Homo sapiens: one gene and its partner. The protein of the gene in region 2 purifies or fractionates together with the protein of the main gene of each other region. This does not show direct contact. Each region holds a gene or a part of one and is shown on either strand. Other genes may lie near its edges.

The links.
Region 1: the proteins of H3C6 (region 2) and CHAF1A purify together in Homo sapiens (affinity purification with western blotting; 5 studies listed by BioGRID, with this or other methods). This does not show direct contact.

The regions. Positions count from the first base shown.
Region 1 is NC_000019.10:4,426,528-4,430,278, reverse strand, and holds part of CHAF1A (chromatin assembly factor 1 subunit A), read right to left. Parts: intron 1,616-3,751; coding exon 1,389-1,615; intron 842-1,388; coding exon 673-841; intron 572-672; coding exon 491-571; intron 1-490. UniProt on the Homo sapiens protein: Acts as a component of the histone chaperone complex chromatin assembly factor 1 (CAF-1), which assembles histone octamers onto DNA during replication and repair.
Region 2 is NC_000006.12:26,222,904-26,226,262, forward strand, and holds H3C6 (histone H3.1), read left to right. Parts: upstream 1-2,231; 5' UTR 2,232-2,251; coding exon 2,252-2,662; 3' UTR 2,663-2,713; downstream 2,714-3,359. UniProt on the Homo sapiens protein: Core component of nucleosome. Nucleosomes wrap and compact DNA into chromatin, limiting DNA accessibility to the cellular machineries which require DNA as a template.

The sequences.
Region 1 (3,751 bases), on a different chromosome or scaffold from region 2:
TTGAGCCTGGGAGGCAGAGGTTGCAGTGAGCCGAAATCGCGCCACTGCACTCCAGCCTGAGTGATAGAGTGAGACTCCATCTTAAAGAAACAAAAAAATGTAAAGCTGTGAACATCTGCTTTGCATGGCCTCCCGACAGACACGGTGAGCATCGGCAGAAAGCCCACTAGGTCACAGCAGCTGGGCAGTCAGGAGGAAATGGTGTGCAGCAGGCCCGCAGGAGGCAAGAGGGGGCTGTGGGGCCACGGTGCAGATGCGGACGGGATCCCATCCCCAGCAGCCACGTGGGCGAGTGTCACCAGATGAGATTTTTCGAGAGAAGCTGGAAGTCTGGATGTTGAGGTGCGTTCAGGTTTCAGACCACACAGCAGGTCAAACACCAGCTGTCAGTGAGTGAACACAGCTGGGCTGCATCCTTAGCCCCTCACTGTGGGACAGAGACTCAAACACAAGCCGTCTGTGAGTGAAGACAGCTGGGGCACATCCTTACCCCCTCACTGTGGGACAGGGACTCCCCAGGCTCCTCTTCTTCCCACTCCTCATCACTGTCCACCTCATAGTCCAGGAGCTTCTGAGAAAAGAAACACATGGGACTCACAACTGTCTTTGGGGCTGGAGGAAAGGGGCACAGTGAGGAGGTACGGGGACGGAGGCACTCTGGGGCTAGCTCACCGTGTCCTGGGCCCAGGGGTCTCGCGCGCGGATGAGTGCCGTCTTCTTATTCCAGGTACCCCAGTAGGCAGGCCGGTGGTTCTCACAGAACTGCAGGAGCTTCATCCTGCCAAACTTCCTCCTCTCGGGAACACCGTCGCCCTTCCCACGCTCCACGATGACGACATCACTGAGAAGGAAAACCCCAGGCTCAGGATCACGCTGCCTTACAGACCTGCTCACAAACCTCCCAGGAACCTCCCTGTGAAGCTGGCCTAACAATTCTAGAAAGATGGGCATTTGTTAAAAAGCAGCACTGCCTGTCCCCAAAGAAAGGTCAGGAACATGGACTGAAGGGACAGATGGAGGAGGGTGCAGCCTGCAGGGTGAGAGGGAGGACAGCTGCCCAGGTGCAGCCCCAGAGCATTTTTAGCAAGGGAGGTTCTGTGGAATGAGATTTGCAAGAGCGAGGTGTTGGGGGGTATCCTTCACTGGAGACCAGCAGGGAAATAAGATTCCTCCACGAGGAGCTGGGAAGACAGGGAGAGGAAGACTTCAGGAGCTTACAGGAAGGCCAGGTGGAGAGAGGCCTGAGCCAGCACCGAAGCCCAGGGCCCGAGGGCACTAGGAAGCAAGCAACAGAAGGACCCAGAGCTCCCACCCCGGGGACCCCAGGGTTCAGGATGCTGGCCTCCAGCATCACTAGTGGGTGAAGGCCGACCTCCTCAGGCTCTGACCTGTTAAAAATATCTGCATTCCGGGTGGAAACGTGCGTGGGTCCGGACCTCAGGGGCTGCCGGCCTTTGAGGTCTTTCAAGAAGGAGAACTCGCCGCTCTGCTGCTGGAGGAGCTGGTCCAGCTGACTGCAGAGGTCTGGATGGAAAGCGGTCCGACGCCGAGGGGCCAGGACCATGTGCTCTTTAATTTCAAAGGGGGCAAACTTCCCACAGGAGCCGGCCAGGGTCTGAAATCAAGAAGAGACCCGATGGGGTCTTCGAGCAATGGGAGAAAGGAGGCACCATGGACGCACACAGCAGGGTGCTGGTGGGATTCATCCAGGCTAAGGCCAAGGCACAGACTCAAAAGCCCAGGCACTGTGTGGGTCCACAGAGCCGAGTTTCCAGAGCTACAGGGCAGAGGGCAGATTGGCAGTCTCAAGGGCCGGCGGTGGGGGGACAGACTACAAGGGAGCTGTTTTGAGTGATGGAAATAGGGTTTATCTTCATTATGGTTAGCTGGCCCTGTCATTTGTCAACACAAATGTCCTGAAAAGAGTTTATTTTATTGGATGTAAATTATATCTCAACAAACCTCACTTAAAAAAAAAAAAAAAAAAGGCCGGGGGCAGTGGCTCATGCCTGTAATCCCACCACTTTGGGAGGCTGAGGAGGGCGGATCACCTGAGGTCAGGAGTTCGAGACCAGCCTGCCCAACATGGTGAAACCCCATCTCTACTAAAAACAAAAATTAGGCCAGGGGCAGTGGCTCATGCCTGTAATCCCACCATTTTGGGAGGCGGAGGAAGGCGGATCACCTGAGGTCAGGAGTTCGAGACCAGCCTGCCCAACATGGTGAAACCCCATCTCTACTAAAAACAAAAATTAGGCCAGGGGCAGTGGCTCATGCCTGTAATCCCACCACTTTGGGAGGCTGAGGAGGGCGGATCACCTGAGGTCAGGAGTTCGAGACCAGCCTGGCCAAGATGGTGAAACCCCGTCTCTACTAAAAATACAAAAATTAGGCCAGGCGCGGTGGCTCACGCCTGTAATTGTAGCGCTTTGGGAGGCCGAGGCGGGTGGATTGTCTGAGCTCAGGAGTTCGAGACCAGCCTGGGCAACACAGTGAAACCCGGTCTCTACTAAAATACAAAAAATTAGCCGGGCACGGTGGCATGCACCTGTAGTCCCAGCTACTTGGGAGCCTGAGGCAGGAGAATTGCTTGAACCTGGGAGGCAGAGGTTGCAGTGAGCTGAGATCGTGCCACTGCACTCCAGCCTGGGGGATAGAGCAAGACTCCATCTCAAAAACAAAACAAAACAAAACAAAAATTAGCTTGGCATGGTGGTGGGCACCTGTAGTCCCAGCTACTCAGGAGGCTGAGGCGGGAGAATCGTTTGGATCTGGGAGGCAGAGGTTGCAGTGAGCCCAGATCACGCCACTGTACTCTAGCCTGGGCCTGAGGCAGGAGAATTGCTTGAACCTGGGAGGCAGAGGTTGCAGTGAGCCGAGATCGTGCCACTGCACCACTCCAACCTGGGGGATAGAGCAAGACTCCATCTCAAAAACAAAACAAAACAAAACAAAACAAAAATTAGCTTGGCATGGTGGTGGGCACCTGTAGTCCCAGCTACTCAGGAGGCTGAGGCAGGAGAATCGTTTGGATCTGGGAGGCAGAGGTTGCAGTGAGCCCAGATCACGCCACTGTACTCTAGCCTGGGCAACAGAGCAAGACTCCTTCTCAAAAAAAAAAAAAAAAAAAAAAAAAAAAAAAGACAGGGTCTTTTTTTGAAAGATCACAACTCCTCTTTTTTTTTTCTGAGATGGAGTCTCGCTTCATTGCGCAGCCTGGAGTACAGTGGTGCAATCTCGGCTCACTGCAACCTCTGCCTCCTGGGTTGGGCGATTCTCCTGCCTCAGCCTCATGAGCAGCTGGGATTACAGACGCCTACCACCACGCCCGGCTAATTTTTGTATTTTTAGTATTTTTAGTAGAGACACCTTGTTGGCCAGGCTGGTCTCAAGCTCCTGACCTCAGATGATTCACCCGCCTTGGCCTCCCCAAATGCTGAGATTACAGGCATAAGCCACCGCACCTGGCCAAAAGGAGAAATTTCAGTATAATGAAAGACACTGTAGCTGGGCGTGGTGGCTCACACCTGTAATCCCAGCACTTTGGGAGGCCGAGGTAGGCGGATCACCTGAGGTCAGTAGTTCAAGACAAGCCTGACCAACATGGAAAAACCCCGTCTCTACTAAAAATACAAAATTAGCTGGGCGTGGCAGCACATGCCTGTAATCTCAGCTACTCGGGAGGCTGAGGCAAGAGAATCATTTGAACGCAGGAGGCAGAGGTTGTGGTGAGCTGAGATCATGCCACTGC
Region 2 (3,359 bases):
TAACACAGATCCTATGGGAAATTGTGTTCAGGTATGGAAATAGTGATGGAAATTACTGATTAATACAAGTGAGCTGCTAAGTTCTTATGTAATCATGTAAATTTTGCACTGACTTCTAAAATAAAGCTTTACACATATTTAGAGATGAGGATTATGAAAGGAACTGAAGGTAGGTTCCAATGGCAAAACACCGGATTGACAGATTTAAGAACACTGGGGAGGAAATAGAACTATGGGGCATAAAGATGGAATTTCCTTAATGGTTCTCACTGACTGTGACCTAAAGTTTATCTTTTGATTTTGGAAACATTTTTTAGATGTAGATATTAACATTCTAATAATAGAAATGAAAAAACTAAAATGAAAATGAGAAAACAGAAGATAATATCAATAAACAGGTCTTGGGCCTCAGAAGATGAGATGTAGGGAGTGTGGAGAGGAAAAGCACAGGGGGTGCATAGCTCTCATTAACAAACGGCCCAGCCCACAAATACGTAATCATATTATACAAAAGGATTTCAGTTCTTCCCTTGCTTCCTATGAAACAATTTTGCCAACATACCTAACCGTTTTACCGTGATTTAAAGTGTACAGAATTTTCTTTTTCTGAAAAGGAGAGAAGCAAGGGACTCATATATATTTCAGATGTGAGATTGAAACGCACGACAATGTGTAATTTCAGTCAAGACTTGCCCACGAGTCCTAAGATAATTCAAATTTGCAAAATAGACACTAACTTGAAAGGTGCAATTGTATCAATCCTGTGGTTAGCAGAATTTTGATGAATGCCCTAAAATAGGGCAGGTTTAACAGAATTCAGGGAATGAGCAGGAATGCACAAAGCATCCTTTGTCTCCTCTCCACTCCAGCTTGCAGACATCCGCGGGCATTTGCGGGCAGTGATAAATTTGGTTTAGCCGTTTCCCCTCCCTGGAGGACGGGGGCTCCAGCATATTCATGATGTCAATCGCCTTGGACTACATGCCAGCGTCATTGCGAACCTGCTACACTTTACAAAATAGCTTTCCAATGAGAAAGAAAACCTACTGGGAAAGAAAAACAAAAAGAAACTAGACCTTGCAACGGGCACGCACGCGCACTATCCCTCTCTGAAATATTTATAGTACGCTTACACAAACGCGAACTTGTAAATCAAAACTCTGCCTGAACCAAAGTAGCCAATAGATTAAAAGTATGTAAATTAGGAATTCCCAAACTGCTCTTTTTATTGGCTAGGAAAAGAACACCTTACAGGGAATCCGATAGGTTAATTCACAATAGTGTTAGGCTGTAATGTCATTCTTTAAGAATCTTTTCCAGTAAACATTTGTTACTTTTTCAAAGTAATTGGGAGCTGTTGAGTGTGGAAGCGAAAACCAAGTTAAGAAGTCCTGTTATTTGGGTGAGTCCAGTTCCTATAAAAGTTCTGTTGGATGTGTCTTAAATTGTTCGGTGCACCTCAGCTCTCTCCCGCAGGGATCCGGAGAAACTGCGCCATTGTTGTCTTACAGAGAAACAACCTTCTAACACTCTCTTCGCCGCCATCTTTTTCAAGATTTTAAATTGAAAATACTTTTTTTGACGGCTCTTGCCATTATGTCTGGACGTTTTAATTTCAACAAAACGAAATAATAGTGTTAAGTTCTTTGAGTCAAACCCGATATTACAGAGGTAGGGATTCCAGGATATTAGAATTTTACTATAACACAAATGAAACACAAAGTTCCTTATGCTTAACAGTGTATCTTAGAAAACCTTGTTTGAGTGAATTAGCCTTGTACTCTATAATGAAACGAGGAATCATTGAGAGATACTTAGGCAACGGATTTTAAATGAGTGAATAAGGAAGGGAAAAACTTCAGGAAAATGCAGAAAAAAGCAGCGGAGATTTTGGAAAAAAAATTCTAAAGCACTTTCTAACGCAAACACATTCGATTTTTTATAGCTAAACAGGATAACAGATCAGTCTATTAAGTTAAATGATCAATGTCTTTGCAGGTCATGGTCTACGTGAAACATCAAAGAAACCTGTAACGGAAAACGACTTGTTTGAAAGAGCCAGTTCTCTATCCAAATTTACCAATCAGAATCTTGCACTGAAAAAATAAACCAATCGTGAATCTCTACGGCCACTTCCGGAATTTAGCAACCGATCACTAACAGGGATCGTCCACAATCCAATCAGAGTGATTCTGTTCCTATATAGAGGGGCAAACCAATCTTCCTAACTCATTTACTTTGCAGATGAACTATGGCGCGTACTAAGCAGACGGCTCGTAAATCCACAGGCGGTAAAGCACCGCGCAAACAGCTGGCCACTAAGGCAGCTCGCAAGAGCGCTCCGGCCACGGGCGGCGTGAAGAAGCCCCATCGCTACCGCCCTGGCACCGTGGCTCTGCGCGAGATCCGTCGCTACCAGAAGTCTACCGAGCTTCTAATCCGGAAGCTGCCGTTTCAGCGCCTGGTGCGAGAAATAGCTCAGGACTTCAAGACCGACCTGCGCTTCCAGAGTTCCGCGGTGATGGCGCTGCAGGAGGCCTGCGAGGCCTACTTGGTGGGGCTTTTCGAGGACACCAACCTGTGCGCTATTCATGCCAAACGCGTGACCATCATGCCTAAAGACATCCAGCTTGCCCGCCGCATTCGTGGGGAGAGGGCGTGAATTGTTTTGAGTACAAACCTTAAATCCAAAGGCTCTTCTCAGAGCCAACCACTTTGTCCGTGAAAAGGGCTGTAATCCTTTGAGACGCATTAGACCACTAAACTGCACTGATCCAAATAGACATTTGAAATAGTGGCATTCAGTTCCCTCGATGCTTCATTTAAATTTCCAAATTTAAGCGCTCCCTCAGGTTTTCGCCTAGGGCTGGGCCTCCCTACGCTGTTCTCCATTGGTTTAGCTGGCTTTGTTTTGCTGTTCAGGCCCTCTGCTGCTTTCTTGTACATTGTTCTCGTTTTCTAAACTCCTGGCCACTTAATTGTACCCTGCTTAACCCATCCTCTTGTTTTCTGGCTCAACGCTCTTTCATGTGGTGGCCTGCATTTTAGGTCTTAACTGCATAGGCTTTCAACGCCTTGGTTTTGCCTTTCCTTGATGTTTATTTGACCTTGCCCGAGGGGCCAGCGCTTTTGATCTGCATCAGGCTGCCTTACTCCACTAGTGTTTTGAGACCCAGCTACTTGCCGGCGACGGTCGGTGCCTTGGGTGCGGTCAACGTTACTCTCTGTGCGCCTGATACTGGTCTAAGGCTAAGGTTATTAGCTGGAACACCTAGACCCGTGGCACTAACACACAGCTCTTGCAGACTTGACAGCCTTGCATAGGTTCTAAACTGCAGGAGTCAAAGCAACGAAGGTGC